Linked DNA regions of Homo sapiens: region 1 is linked to region 2. The links come from fine-mapping of genetic effects on gene expression. Tissue or cell type: whole blood. Region 2 holds a variant in brackets; the other region holds the start of a gene. All regions are shown on one strand. Distances are from middle to middle.

Evidence for each region. PIP is the estimated chance that this variant, and not a neighbour inherited with it, causes the effect.
Region 1: it holds the start of ISL2, and the variant in region 2 is fine-mapped to the expression of ISL2 in whole blood (TOPMed, PIP 0.91).

The regions. Positions count from the first base shown.
Region 1 is chr15:76,333,369-76,341,474 of GRCh38, reverse strand. It overlaps ISL2 (ISL LIM homeobox 2), which reads right to left and starts at 4,702. Exons shown (of 6, transcript NM_145805.3): 1 at 4,534-4,702; 2 at 3,508-3,697; 3 at 2,961-3,223; 4 at 916-1,199; 5 at 174-341. The coding sequence starts at 4,591. RefSeq lists enhancers at 582-1,337, 1,535-1,744, 1,765-1,834, 3,382-4,193, 4,619-4,668 and 2 more.
Region 2 is chr15:76,728,232-76,736,337 of GRCh38, reverse strand. SCAPER (S-phase cyclin A associated protein in the ER) reads left to right here. Exons shown (of 32, transcript NM_020843.4): 16 at 2,954-3,109; 17 at 7,601-7,743. Among named protein-coding and RNA genes, the nearest start is that of MIR3713, 150 kb to the right of the region's middle. The variant A/G (reference allele first, on the strand shown) is at 3,380.

The DNA of each region.
Region 1 (8,106 bases), 390 kb after region 2:
GTAATGGGCCGAGGTGAGGTTTCAGAGCCCGCCACTGTTCCCCCTCCCCCACCGCCTAGGGCTGTACCCAGCCCCTCAGCCCAAGGCCACCCCCTCCCCTCTCTGCCAGGCTAAGTGGCTAAATCCCCAACCCGCAGAGTCCCGAGGTCGGGGCGGGTAGGGCAGGGCCTCACCAGCTGTTGGAAGGCGGGTTGGTCCAGGTCGCTCTGGAGGGCAAACTCGCTGAGCGCCTTCCACGGCGGCTGGTACGTCTGCACCTCCACTGCGCTGCCCTGCACGGCGTTCTCATGGCGGATGGGACTGCCCGCCACCAGGGGCGTCCCAGTCAGTCCCTGAAGGCTCTGCGGGGCAAGCAGAAGGCAGTAGGTGCTCGAGTTAGGTCTGGCCTTTTCTGCCACCTTTGAGACTGGAGCTCCAGGCCTTGAGTGATTTAGGGTCTGCATTGCTTTGCGGGGAGGCGCACACTCGATCGCATCGGAAGAGCCCTCTTTCTCCACTGGGGATCTGCGGGGGCCGCAAACTTGCCACGATAGGTCAGCCTCGGTGCTGGAAGCCAACCGCCCGGTGAGGAAAGGCAAGACCTGCACTCCCACCTTTCTGCAGCTGCCGACGGAGTGCACAACCCACCAGCCCGACTGGCGGGCGCTGCACACTGCCATGCAGCCTTGGGCTCCGCGCAGCGCCCGGAACCCGCAACGCGGGGCTGCCACTGGGACAAGGAGAAACCCCGATCCCAGACAAAATAGGAAGCCTCAAATCCAAGGGAAGCCTTGCTGTGAAGGTACAGACATACACCATCTGGAGCGCCCAGTTCTCCCTGGATCTCCCAGGGCTCGCCCAGAAAAGGGCACGCAGATACCGCGGCGGAAGCGCAGCCCCCACCCGACTCGAGCCTCCGGCCCAGCGGCTGCTCACCGTCTTGTCGCTGTGCTGCTGCTGCTGCAGCTGCTTCATGAGAATGGATTTCTTCTTGTCCTTGCAGCGCTTGTTCTGGAACCAGACGCGGATGACCCGCGGGCTCAGGCCGGTCATCTCCACCAGCTGCTCCTTCATGAGAGCGTCGGGCCGCGGGTTGGCGGCGTAGCAGGTCCGCAGAGTGTGCAGCTGCTTCTCGTTCAGCACAGTCCGCACGCGGGTCGTCTTCTCCGTCTGCTTGTGCACGTGCGGGCGCAACGCGGGCTGCCGGCCCGACCCAGCGTCTGCCAGGACAGGGTGAGGCCAGAGGTTAGCGAGGGGCCGCCACCCACCCGCCCCGAGCCCAACCTCCGGGTGGCCCAGCCCCCCGGGGCCCGATTTCGTTTCTGTTTTATTCTGTTTGTTTCGTTTAATTGTTCGTCTTCCTCTCCATCTGTTCGCCTTACTCGGAGAGAGCTGTGCATTTTCGTTCTTTCTCTCGCTCCCGGGCCGGACTGCCCCGCAGCGATCTCTCCCGAGCTCAAGCAGGGCGCGGGAGCTCGGCGACAGGCCGCTGCGGGGAGGGAGTGGCTGCTCAGGGATGTGCCTCCTCCAGTCGCAGGACCCTCGGAACGAGCGAAGCCCTCCGGAAGAAGTCGGAGTTTCAGAGGAAGAGGAAAGAGGCTTGCCCAGGACTCTGGAGAGGGAAAGGGACCGACGTGGACCCAGGGCGAGGCGCTGCCCAGGGGACTGGGTGGGAGGTGCGAATATGCCGGGGGCCTACGAGGGCCCTTCCCCTCCTTCAGAGCCCATTTGGACAGGGCCAGGCCACATGTGTAGAAGACTCATCCACGGTTATGGACGGGCCTCCAGGGCTTGCAACAGTTCCTTCCTGCCCGCCCTTGGGCTTCGGCCCCTGTCTCCTTCCTCAAGGCTCCAGGTTCCCCAGCCCAGTGGCCTCCCACCGACCAAGGTGCTGAGCAGCCGCTGGCACTCTCCTCGCTTGGCCCCAGGTTCTCTCCATCCCGGGGAAACAGTGACTGATTCCAGAGCCTGCACCCTGAAGCCCGAAACAAACAAAGGGGAGCCTCTCCGAGATCCCAGATGGGGGTGCACTGAATACCCGCTTGCTCCCATTTCACATCTCCATTTGATCCCGACCCATATATACCGTGGATCTGTACTGCACCATTTCGGTTTATGTTCCCCTCTACGAATTTCTAGGTCTGGACAAATATTTACAAATAGCCCATCCAGCCCAGTTTCCTCTTTCTATAGGGAGGAAGTGAAGATCCAGAGAGGGGAGGAGCGGGGCAAGGCCACACAGCACCCAGAGGCCCAGCCTGGTCTACGGATCTGTGCTGCAGGCCTATGGCTACCTGGGGGAAACTGCCTTGCCTGGGGTGGAGGCACCTCTGTTTCTGTTCAGCCGTACCTGCCCATTATACACTCAGACCCCATCTCTGGGCAGCTGCTGATTAGGACCCAGAATATTCCAGTGACAGTCCACTATGCATTGATACTCCCCCTCCCCCAGAAGAACCTGGCTAAATTGTTCATCAAACTGGGCCTCAAAACAAGATGGCAAAAACCCCTCTTTGTTGGGTTCTTGGCTCCTGGCTGACCAAGCTCCTGCCCAGCTCCCAGTTTGGAGCTGTGTTACTTACACACATACCCCTGGGCAAACCTTACCCTCTGACAATAACACATATTCCTCCAAGAAATTCCTAATACAAGCCCCAAGACGGACACCACTTAAGATTCCCTGTTGTCATCCACTCTTCTGCTCCTAGCACTGTGCCCTGCATGTTCCTGGTCATGGAGAACACGATTCTGCACAATTCTCCGTGCTCACACACTCATACACACGCAGTTTCTCCCGAGCACACGAGAATACACACAGCCTTGTTCCCAGCACACAGTTCCGCACTGATACAGAAAAACACTATCCCGGCAGACGGAACCACACACAACTGACAACTTCTCGTTAGGGACACAAGCGTACCCCTACACACACGCACGCACATACACCCCGCTCACCCCGGCACAGGCCCCGGCGCGCTTACCGGGCAGATGCAGGCCGCGGGCGCCGGGAAGCGGGCCGGGGCTGCGCGGGCTGCCGGCCGCGGCGCGCTCGAGCAGGAGGCCGTGGTCGGCGCGGCAGAGCAGCTCGTGCTCCCGCAGCGAGAACTCGTCCCCAGGCAGCAGCTGGCGGCTGCACACGGAGCAGCGGAAGCACTCGATGTGGTACACGCTGTCCCGCGCCCTCATCACCAGGTCGCTGCTGCTGAAGCCCACCTGGCACTTGGCGCACTTGATGCCGAACAGCCTGCGGGCCCAAGGTGCGGCGGTGTCAGCGCTGGGCCTGCGGCCGCCCTCATCTCCCTGGCTGCTACGGCTCCGGCGCGCGCCCAGGACACTTTGTGGCCACCAGGAGACTGCGGTGACCCGCCTGCGGGCATTCCCGGGCCCGGGGGAGCGCTGCGGCACCCGTGCGGGATGCGGATGGCCTTCTCCCTGGGCAGGGCCGGGGCGCGCGGGCAGGCCGCCATCCCCAGTCCCGGCCCCGGCCCCTGCGCGCGGTGGCCCAGCCCGCGTTCCCGCCGGCCTCACCTGACATAGTCCCGCTTGCAGTAGGTCTTCCCGTCTCTCACGAAGCACGTGCACGTCTCGTCCAGGTACTGGCTGCACTCGGCACACTTGAGGCAGGCCGCGTGCCACTCGAGGTCGGGCGACACCCGCAGGATAAACTGGTCGTGGATCTGACTCCCGCAGCCCACGCACATGGCCGTCCCGGGCTTCTCTGCCGGGGAAGGGCGCGGGGCCGCGTCAGGCCTGACTGCCCGGACCCAGGCCGGCCTCGGCTACTCCAGCCCCAACCCAACCCGCTCGCTCTCTTGCTCTTTCTTTCAAGACTTGCGACCATAAGGAAAGATGATGAGCTCTCTAAAGGTCCAGGGCATTGGAAACGAAAAACCAGTATCTTGTGGATTGCTGAAGGTTTCTTCTGTCCCCCACCCCAAATATTTCGTTATTACATTCATTAATGACAGTCGTTTTGTCGACGTGTCTTGAAACTAAACGCAAACACGAAACTAAGAAGAGAGTAAATACACAGGCACTGCGGACGCCTGGATATCAACACCTAACGGTGCTGTCCTGGCATTTCCGCTCACACACTCCCACTCACAGCGGCTGCCTCCTATCCCAACACAGACACATCGTCTTTCGGCAGTCCCCGCTCATCCTCTCAGACATTTCTTAGTTTAAATATCCCAGAGCAAGCGAAAGAAAGCTTCCTAGCTTTGAAAAACCGAAAGGCAAACAAACAACAACCAAAAAAAAAAAAACCCACATCCCTAAATCAAACCTAATTGCCTTTGCGCAAAACAGAAGCAGATTTCGCAGCCCGAAGTCATCCTAGCCGGCTTGAGAAATAGTGTTTACTTATAAAATAAAACAACAGGATTCCCAAAGATAAGCAGTCCTGCAGGAGACATGCATTCGTTTTTCCTCTCCTAAACTATTCTGACAAATAGAAGCCACTTGTAGAATCCACTAAACATTTTTCTGCATTAGAAATTTTGCATATTAAGCATACACACACACCCCACCCCACACACACACAGAAATACTTACTCTTGGAATGATCACCCATAGCACCCAGAAAAGGATAATGAAAAATAATATCCACCATGCAGAAAAAGAGATGTGCGCAAAGTGTGCGGCCAGGGGCAGAAGGACGAGGGTCGCGCGCCCGGCCTCGGCTCTTTGCTAACTAACTCCTACTGCCCCGCGGAGTTGAAGGAGCGATTCCGCACCGGCCCGCACGCAGCATGACGTCAACACGCACTAGCCCCGGGCCGGAGCTGGGGGCGGGACCTGTGGCGTCACGAAGCTTCCCCAGAACTGCCGGGGATGCGGGGGAGGTGATGGGGATCCAGGGGCTGATGGGCGGGGTGGGTTGGGTTGGAGGCTGGGGGTGAAGGGAGATTGGCTGGGAGGAAGTGGGCCAACCCTGATTGGCCCGGAGTGAACAATGGAGTGCAGCCCCCCCACCTCCGAAACCTACAAGGATCCTCTCTCATGCCCCGGGCCTGGCAATCTGGACTGGACCTTGCGTCACCGCCGAGCTGGCTCCGCGGCCGTTACAACTCTGAGCTTCCTCTTGGACTTTCGGGGCGGTTTTCCCAGGCGCGCTGGAGCTGGGTGATGGATACCTGAGGGTGGAGATGGCTCTCCTTTAAGAGCTCCCTTCTTATATAAATTAAAAAAAAAAAAATTAAACCCACTCTCAGGACGAGAGAGCCGAGGACAAGGGGGATCCGTTTGGACGTGACCGTCATCGTCCAGCTGGTCACCTTTCTCCTCTCATGTGCCTTTGTTCTTCGGGTCCAAGCTAGAGAGAGTGTAGAGAATGACCACCTGGGTTCTGATAAACTCTATTTAGACTTTCCTATCCACACACACGTAGAAAACTTTAGATTGGGGCATTACGTGGGTTGAGCCAGAACCCAGATCCAAAAGCGCTCACCCGGGACTGGGACGGGTCCTGACTCCATCCTTGCTGCTGCTGCCGCTGCTGCTGCCCCTCCTCCCTCTCCTCCACCACCACCTCCTCCTCCTGCTCCACTTCCTTTTTTTTGTTGTTTTGTTTTGCTTTTAATTTGTTGCTGTTGTTGTTTTAAATGTAACATGGACTTCCCCGCCCCCTCATTTTTCCCCCATCCAAATGGCATAGCTCCTTTTAGGAACACTGCTGGGGTCGATTGCGTGTCCAACTTCCAAAATAAAAGATTTTTCTAAACTCTTGTCCTTCATTAACAAACCCACTGCAATGCAAATAATCAGAAACGAACGTAAGGCGCTGGGTAATTTACAGTGGTATCTGCGAGGCGGCGGCTCGTTGGTCCTGAGAAAATCTGAGAGCTCTGAGCACAGTCCAGGCATTCTTTCAAAGAAATCGCTGTGGGTTTTGTTTGAAAGGGTTCAAAGACCGGCCCATGAATTATAAATAACATTTATCCAACCATGGTGTCTGTTCTTGTTTTCCCATTAAAAGGAGTACCAAGAACTTGGTGTGCGCCTGGGTGGGGCGCGAGGTGAAACGCCTGCGGATAAAGTGTCTCCACCGCCATTCCAGACCCTGCCCAGACCTTCGGGCTTGTGGGCCTGAGGGCGCGGTCGCTACTGCCGTTCTACTAAGAGCATGAGGTTGGTTGGCGTCGAAACGGATGCAGCCGAGGGCGCAGGCCGAGGCTTTGCAGAAGGCTAGGGCGAGGCCCCGAGTGCACGCTAACATTATTCGACCATGGTCCACGGTGAACGTTCCTCACCGGCCCCGCGCTGGGGCGAGCGCTTTAAGCCTCGTCCAGTAGCGTCCGGCTTTTGAGCTCCGCCTCCACCTTTAGGAGGTCTAGTCTTCTCACCGGTCCGGCTTTTTTTTTTTTTTTTTTTTTTTTTTTTTTGAGATAGACTCTTGCTGTGCCGCCCAGGCTGGAGTGTAATGGTGCGATCTCGGCTCACTGCAACCTCCGCCTCCCGGGTTCAAGCGATTCTCCTGCCTCAGCCTCCTGAGTAGCTGAGATTGCAGGCGAGCGCCACCACGCCCCGCTAATTTTTGTATTTTTAGTAGAAACCGGGTTTCACCATGTTTGTCAGGCTGGTCTCGAACTCCTGACCTCGTGATCCGCCCACCTCGGCTTCCCACAGTGCTGGGATTACAGGCGTGAGCCACCGCGCCGGGCCACCGGACCGGCTCTTGTTACAGTTTACCACCCGTTGGCCAATAGGCCATTTCTTGCGTCTTTAGTCAACAGTCCCCCAAAGAGCGCTCACCCTGAGTGTGTGCGGGCAGGTCAGGGGTTGGGGGATGCTGCGTTTGAATGAATGTGTTTATGTAAATGGGGGACAAGAGCGAGGGGGTGGGTATCTGTGCCTGAGGCTGTGCCAGGACACCTGTGTGACCTCAGGCATCTTATTTTAATTCTCCTTCCCTCAGTTTCCTCATCTGTAAAATGGGGGTATAATAATTGTAGCTATCTCTATTACATAATAATTAAATAAACTGTTCTCTGGAAAGGGCTTAGAGCAATACCTAGCACAGAGTAAGTGCTCCATATGTGTTAATTATGACAGTTATGACTGTGGCTGTATCTTTATGTTGGGAGCCTCTGCCCACCCTGCCTGCGTGTGTCTGGATGGGGAGGGGAGGTCTAAGTATGTCTCAGTATGTGTCATCTGATGATTTCTTTGTGATTTCGATGTGTGCTTGCTGTGTGTGTGTCTGCTGTGTAGATGGGGTTTGGAGATGTGTGGTCTGTGCATAGACTTTGTGTACAGGTTATATCTGTGAATGTGGGTGCACAGTCAGAACTGGGAGGGGACTCGGTGTGTGTGTCTGCATGTGGAGTGAGGAGGTGCGTCTGGCCCAATGGCCCTACCCTTAGGTGACCCTGGACTAGGCCTGGCTCCCAGCACCTACTAGCTCTTGCTCGCCAGGCCAGGAGCAAGCACATCTATAATTCAGGGGTTCAGACAGCTGGCCAGGAGGGGGCAGCCCCAGGCTGGAATCGTAGTCCCAGCTTTTAACCGTCTCCTGCCCAGAGAAACTCTTCCTTCCCGTCCAGAAAAACCTGTCCTTTGAAACTTCACTAGGGAGGTGGGGATTGGAGAGGGTCACCCCTCCTGGGATGCTAGGAAGCCAGGTCAAAACAAATATTTGTTCAGGGCCACCATGTGCAAAGTCCTTGTTGTTAGCCTATTAGGTCTTAAAAGTAATGCCATGTGGTGAGTAGTATTGGGCCCCTCCAATCCTCGAGGAAACTGAGGCTCAGAGAGGGGAAGTTACTGCCTCAGGTCACAGGTTAAATCATTGCTGGCATTGAACCCAGGTCTATCTGGCTCCATCTTGCTTGCTTTTTTCACTGTGCCATTGAAGAGCCACATGAGTGTAGCTCCATCATTCACCCATTTCACATCTCTGGAGCTGTAAAACCAGGGATCCATTTCAAAATCACTCCATGTGTGACTTCTGGTCACAGCCACCCCTGAGAGACCAGCACTGACATGGGAGAAGAAAACACCTGCACCTGCTGGGCACGGCCACAGGCACCATTGATGTGGCCCTACCCTGGTTCTCTGCCTCCTGGCTGCTCCCTTCTCAGGTATGGAGGGGCCACACACTCTCCACATCCCAGGCTGGCATGCAGG
Region 2 (8,106 bases):
TTCAGCAACCACCACCCTGATCAGTCAGCAGCCATCAACATCAGTGCAAGACTCTCCACCAGAAAAAAAGATTATAACTTGCTAATGGCTCGAATGTTCATTAGCATTTTTTAGAAAAAGTGTTTTAGAATTAAGGTGCGTACATTGTTTATTTAGACATAATGCTGTTGCACAATTAATAGGCCATAGTATTGTGTAAAAATAACTTATATGCATTGGGAAATTTGATAATTCATGTGACTTCCTTTATTGCGATACTCAGTTTATTGTGGTGGGCTGGAACCAAACTTGTAATATCTTTGAGGTATGCCTGTACATGTTCAGTACAAACACAATCACCCATTAAAAAACATTTTTTATCTATGGTTGATTGAATCCATGGATGCAGAACCCACAGATATGGAGGGCTGACTATATAGGTACTGTCTGTGATTTGAGGCATCCACCAGGGGTCTTGGAATGTATTCCCTGTGGATAAGGACATACTACTGTATGTTGTTTTATCATCTTTCCTTTGCTTCTTTAAATTCATGTTTTTGTCAAATTCTTCAGTGCTACCAAGTTTGTCTAATGAATTTTCTGCTGTTTGTTAGGTTATTTTCTTTTCTTATCTTTTTTTCTTTCTTTTTTTTTTTTTTTTGAGACGGAGTCTCTGTTGCCTAGGCTGGAGTGCAGTGGCACAATCTTGGCTCACTGCAACCTCCATCTCCCATGTTCAAGCGATTCTCCTGCCTCAGCCTCCAAAGTAGCTGGGATTACAGGGGCATGCTGCCACGCCCAGCTAATTTTTTTTTTGTATTTTAGTAGAGATGAGGTTTCACTGTGTTGGCCAGGCTGGTCTCAAACTCCTGAGCTCAGGCAATCTGCCTGTCTCGGCCTCCCAAAGTACTGGGATTATAGGTGTGAGTCACCGTGCCTGACCACAGGTTATTATTTTCTTCCAAATTGTTGCTGTTCTTTTAAATGAGACAGGGTCTCACTCTGTTGCCCAAACTGGAGTTTAGTGGCGCGATCATGGCTCACTGCAGCCTCTAACTCCTGGGTTCAAGCAATCCTCTCACCTCAGCCTCCCAAGTAATTAGGACTATAGTTGCATGCCACCACACCTGGCTAAATATATATATCTATATCTATCTATCTGTATATATTTATATTTAATAGAGATAGTCATTTTACATTGCTCAGGCTGATCTTGAACTCCTGGGCTCAAGCAATCCTCCTGCCCGGCCCTCCTAACGTGCTGGGATTACAGGCATGAGCCACTGCACCCTGCCAAGGTTGAGTTGTTTAATCTGACTTTTGCATACTCTTTCCCTTGTGAGTTTTATTTTATTGTAAAAATTTTGCTTAGTGTATTAGGTCCCATTACTTTTTCTTTCATTTTGATTATGTTTATGATATAGTCTGAATAAAGTTTCCTTGAGCATACTTGTTTATCATATATATATATATAGAGAGAGAGAGATGGAATCTCACTTTGTCGCCCAGGCTGGAGTGCAGTGCAGTGGTGCGATCTTGGTTCACTACAACCCCTACCTCCCGGGTTCAAGCAGTTCTCTGCCTCAGCCTCCTGAGTAGCTGGGATTAGGTGCCTGCCACCACATCCGGCTAATTTTTGTATATTTAGTAGAGACGGGGTTTCACCATCTTGGCCAGGCTAGCTTGCACTCCTGACCTTGTGATCCACCCGCCTCAGCCTCCCAAAGTGCTGGCATTACAGGCGTAGCCACCACACCTGGCCTATCTTGTATTTTGAGTACGTTCAGTACAGTTTGAAGGATGTTTCTGTGATTAATCTACTTATTAAAGTGCTTATGAAAGTGGTATCATGGCATGGAGATTGGGAAAGCTTAGTTGGATCTGTATTCAAACTTTTCTGAGATTTATAAAATATCTTAACGTAGGTTTTGTTCCATCCAGCATGGATTCCTGTAGTCTGTGGCTGTCAAAGACAGTTGTCTCTAGTGTTCACTTCCCTACTTCACTCTACCATTTTAACTGTAGCATACCCTCCGCTCTGGCTTTCAAGAATGAGAGGGTTGATCCTACCTGATTTTTGAGCTTTATCATTAGCTATCCTTTACTCATAATATCTGTACTTTCTAGCAAAACTTGACTATTAAGGATCAATATATGTGAAGTTAAGGATGCAATGTATAGTTCAGTACCTTGTATCTAATTGTCACTCATTCATTATATGTTGAAGAAAAGTAATTTGTTGTTTATTTTACATTTTGTCCTTTCAAACTCATTAGAATAACGTGAGCATACCTATTTCAATGTTTGTGTAATTTGTATAGTTGCAAATTACACTGTTATTAAGTAGAACTTTGTAAGATGGTCTGTATAAGAATTTAAAATTGTTTCTTCACTTAAAAATGTTTTCAGTGGCAGGCCTCTAAATCACTTCTTTCTAAGGCCTGTGGATTTTTTATACACACTGGATTATTATCCATTTTGAGGTAAATATTGAAAGAAAAGACCAATAATTCCTTCATTTTTTTTTTGTTCCATGCCTTACCACTGGTTCATGTTATTATATAAAGACTGTTGTTAGATTTCTTTCTTTCTTTCTTTCTTTTTTGATATGGAGTCTTGTTCTGTCACCCAGGCTGGAGTGCAGTGGCACGATCTTGGCTCACTGCAACCTCTGGCTCCTGGGTTCCAGCAATTCTCCTGCCTCTGCCTCCCGAGTAGCTGGGATTACAGGCACCTGCCACCACGCCTGGCTATTTTTTCTTTTTTTTTTTTAGTAGAGATGGGGTTTCACCATATTGGCTAGGCTGGTCTCGAACTCCCAACTTCAGGTGATCCGCCTTCCTCAGCCTCCCAAAGTGCTAGGATCACAGGCGTGAACCACCACGCCCAGCCTGACTGTTGTTAGATTTCTTATTTTTGTAATGTGCCCTAGAATTAACTTGATCTGAACCTTACCTTCTTTGTTTTTTTAAAGGTAAATGAAATTGCCTTTATAAATACCCTTGAAGCCCAGAATAAACGTCATGATGTTTTATCAAAATTGAAGGAATATGAACAGAGGCTTAATGAGCTACAGGAAGAGCGTCAGAGAAGACAGGAAGAAAAGCAAGCACGTGATGAAGCTGTGCAGGTAGGATTTTTTTATTCAGCAAACATTGCTTGAGCACCTGTCATATTTGTAGGGTCCAGCCCCGCAGGGTCGGTGGGTTTTTCTCCCCATGTGCGGAGATGGGAGATTGTAGAAATAAAGACATAAGACAAAGAAATAAAAGACAGCTGGGCCTGGGGGGACCACTACCACCAAGACGTGGAGACCGGTAGTGGCCCTGAATGCCAGGCTGTGCTGATATTTATTGGATACAAGACAAACGGGCAGGGTAAGGCGTGTGAGCCATCTCCA[A/G]TGATACGTAAGGTCAAGTGGGTCACATGTCCACTGGACAGGAGGCCCTTCCCTGCCTGGCAGCTGAGGCAGAGAGAGAGAGGAGAGAGAGAGACAGCTTACGCCATTATTTCTGCATATCAGAGACTTTTAGTACTTTCACTAATTTGCTACTGCTTTCTAAAAGGCAGAGCCAAGTGTACAGGATGGAACATGAAAGTGGACTAGGAGCGTGACCACTGAAGCACAGCATCACAGGGAGACGGTTAGGCCTCAGGATAACTGCGGGCACAAGAGGTGGAGGAGTAGAGTCTTCTCTAAACTCCCCGGGGGAAAGGGAGAGTCCCTTTCCCGGTCTGCTAAGTAGTGGGTGTTTTTCCTTGACACTGATGCTACCGCTAGACCACGGTCCGCTTGGCAATGAGCATCTTCCCAGACGCTGGCGTTACCACTAGACCAAGCAGCCCTCTGGTGGCCCTGTCTGGGCATAACAGAAGGCTCTCACTCTTGTCTTCTGGTCACTTCTCACTATGTCCCCTCAGCTCCTATCTCTGTATGGCCTGGTTTTTCCTAGGTTATGATTGTAGAGCAAGGATTATTATAATATTGGAATAAAGAGTAATTGCTACAAACTAATGATTAATGATATTCATATATAATCATATCTGTGATCTATATCTAGTATAACTATTCTTATTTTGTATATTTTATTATACTGGAACAGCTCATGCCCTCGGTCTCTTGCCTTGGCACCTGGGTGGCTTGCCGCCCACACATATTTTAGATTTAAAGCTAGTTGCTGAGGACCCCAAATGGAGTAACCTAGTGTTTGTTCCCAAAGGTGCATGGTTCAATATGGCACTCTAGAAACATAAAGTCTATTTTCTAAAAGATAGTGTGTTCTCTTTCAGTTACGGTCATCAGTTCTTTCATCAGCAGACTGTAATCATAGCAATAGAATCATCAGCTTCAACTAGGTGAAGTACATGAGTAGTAGTGTATATTTTTAAATAGACATCTTTGGTTCCTTACTCTGCATTTTGCAGATTTGAAATATAACAGTTATCTTTCGTTTAAAAATGATGACTCTCACTTCACAATTTTTAACATTCATTAAAACTTAAAGGAAAACAGTTTACTAAACTAGTAGGGAATTTCCTCCACCAACCAACACTTTAAGAATTGTTTTGGCTCTTTAGAATTATTTTTGTTTTTAAAAGTGCTGAAGTTTCCTATGGATTTAATTTCAGTGAAAGATTTTAAACCTGTCTACATATGCTTGAGATATACTGAGATAGATAGTCAGAAAAATCCACTGGTAGATAACATGTATAACATTAAAATTTTAAAAATGTGTAATCATTACTTGCTGTACAGGCACTAGTGCCAAGTATTCTGTAAATACAATAATGGTAAGATCCTAACCTAATACAGAATTTCAGAGACCCTCCATCCATTTTATTTTTACTCTTGAAGCATTCTCATGGACTATTAAAGGCAATTGTGATTCTCATTTCTTGTAAGTAAAATACCAAGTGCTGCCATCATATATTCTCAGTTTGCTGTTATTGGTATGTATATTCTTTATTGATTAATTATAAGCTCAATTTTTTCTTTTTTACTTATCCTGCTTTGTCCTTTTGTCCTAATCATTTGAATTGTAGGCATAAAGAGGAGCTACAGAATCCTTTCTTAGGCTGCCTTAAACACCTCCCTGGCTGAGATATGAAGGGGTCTGAGAGGTTCTTCTGTAGGCTTAAGAATTAGTTATATTTCTAATTCCTTTGCTGTAAGTTTTAATTCTTTCCTTGTGGCTATATAGATTCATAGTGTATATTATTTTATAAAGTCATGCTTCATTTATTAAACAGATATTTAGAAATCCCTACCCTTTGCAGGGTGCTTTATGAGGTACAAAGTTTCCTGTCTTTCGGGAATTTAAATTTCAGATTGGGAAATGGTAGCTGAATTTTACTCATTAGCTGTATGGCTACCAGTTCTCTTTTCAAGTTATTAAAAATGGAAATTAATAGGTTGAGTAACTTTTTACGTCCAGTTATCTCTTTTCATACAATGTTGGAGTTGGTCTGATATCCATTAAAACAGTCAGCAAGTTGACATTATGTTTACAAGTGTACACTTGGCTACATTGCACATACCTGCAGTAATTATTTTTACATAATACATATTTTATAAGATCAGTTTAGGATTTAAAAAATTACATTCCTCAAGCCTTTGGTCTTATATTAATAAAATATGAAATGAAAAATTCTGCTTTAATTATTTATATTTAATGCCTAAGCTCTTTGTATTTTGTTGTGAAACATGTGTTTTCAGATATAATATGGAATTTTTAAACTTCAGAAAAATTGGACTATAAGAGGAATTTTTTTATTCACTTTTTTTTTAATGGAGAAAATTTTCTGTGCCAGATTTGATTGTTTTTACTCTTAAGAGTTTTTGATTTTTTTTGGCTAACCAAGTTTCCACATATTATTCTTGATTAGTCATGAGAAATAGCTACAACTATTTCATGAATAGTATGCTCAGACAGTAAAGGATATATTTTAAAATCTAATTGCATGACTCCAACAGTCTGCAGTGTGCCTGTTATGTCCTCCTCAAATAAGGGCATTCCCTCCAATTCCCAGTTTACCCTCTTCTTATACCACCTACCCCCTCAAAAAAAAAAGAAAGAAATAGAGATCCTTTTGGCTATTTTTAAAAGGCTTTCTTTCCCTGGGGCAGATAGAGCTTGTTGTGGAGATGAAGTTACTATTGTGCGCTCAGTTAACTATTAGAAATGTTCAAATCTCTCTTTTGTGTTCCCTGAACAGAAATTGCTTTGTTATTTTTTTTCTGCTATCTTTTACTGAGCCCTTACTATGGCTAAACTCTATGCTGAGAACTTACCTGTAATTAATAATTTACATCTCACAATCAACTGAGGCTCTTTAAGGTGAAGTACTTTGCCCAAGGTTATGTAAGTAGTAGGTACTAGAGCCTAGATCAATGTATTCCATTAATTATAGAGGAGAGGCTACCGAGAGGTTGTGAGTGCTATCTGGGGAATGGGTATGGATTCAGAGAAACATATCAATAAGATGAGGAACATGTTAGTGACAAATATTTCATGTTGAAGTTACCCAGTTTTCATGATTTATCTTCTGGCTTGATGATGATGATGATGATAATTATTTAGAATTTTATATATGCCAGGCCCTATGGTAAGTGCTTTTCATATATTAGCTCATCTGTGCTTTATAATATCCTAAGAAATACATATTATTATTTATCTTCTAGAAAAGTAAGGCACAGAGAATGTAACTAAGTAGCCCAGAGCCACTGTGCTAGTGAATAATGGGGTCAGGAAACAAAACCAGGGAATCTGACCCGATATCCACTCTTACACCCACTGTGCTCTATTGTATTACCTCTTTCTCCTTCTCACAAACTGTCTTTACTTAATTCCATCATGAAAGCTTAGTTCAGAAATAAAATCTATTAACTATGGTTTTTTCATCATATTCAGGTGTTTCTATAACCATATATTAACACAAGGCTTTAGAAGTGATTAATCAGAAAACATATATTAAGTTCTGTATTAGTCAGAGTTCTCTAGAGGTACAGAACTAATAGGATATATATGTATATGTGTGTGTGTGTGTGTGTGTGTGTGTGTGTATGTGTATATATATGTGTGTGTGTGTATATATATATAAAACATATATATATATGAGTTTATTAAGTATTAACTCACACAATCACAAGGTCCCACAACAGAGTGTCTACAAGCTGAGGAGTAAGGAGAGCCAGTCCGAGTTCCAAAACTGAAGAACTTGGAGTCTGATGTTTGAGGGCAGGAAGCATCCAGCACGGCTGAAGGATGTAGGCTGGTAGGCTAGGCCAGTCTCTCTTTTCATATTTTTCTGCCTGCTTTATATTCTAGCCTCGCTGGCAGCTGATTAACCATCACAAGTTCCCACAAAACAAGTATAACACAGTGTTTGTATAAAAAAGCAAGTCTTTACTGAATTATGTGTAACACTGGTAAATGACTTTCAGAAACCAGATATCATTGCTATTTGATTTTTGTTTAAACTTTAAGAAGCAGAGTACCTAGTGGCAAGCCCATGTTTCTACTTGGCTTGAACATGTAAGTTTGGTGAAAGGTATATTACTTTGAATCATTTTTATTTTACACATAATTCTAATATTGGAAACAAATATTTCTAACATTAGGAACGCAAGAGAGCTCTAGAGGCAGAGCGGCAGGCCCGTGTAGAAGAATTGTTAATGAAGAGGAAAGAACAAGAAGCCCGAATTGAACAACAGAGGCAAGAAAAGGAAAAAGCCCGTGAGGATGCAGCCCGGGAAAGAGCTAGGTATCTCATTTGCTATCTTGATGAACATTTTGCACTGAGTGAATATTCAAGTTGAGGTCTTAAAGCCATTTACTGTCATGTAGAGTTTTTTTGAGATGAGGTTTTGCGATGTTCCCCAGGTTGATCTTGAACTCTCTGACTCAAGTGATCCTCCCACCTCACCCTCCTGAGTAGCTTGGACTACAGGTGTGTACCACCACACTCAAATCAAAAAATATATAATTTGATTCTGGATGGCTTCAGCAAAAGAGACTTTTGGGGAAGATACTGAGGGCATAATTAGTAAAAGGTTAGAGGACCAAGTTTGGAAATGTTCTGTCAGACATGAAAGTCTAGATCACAAGAGTCACAGCAGTGGATTTT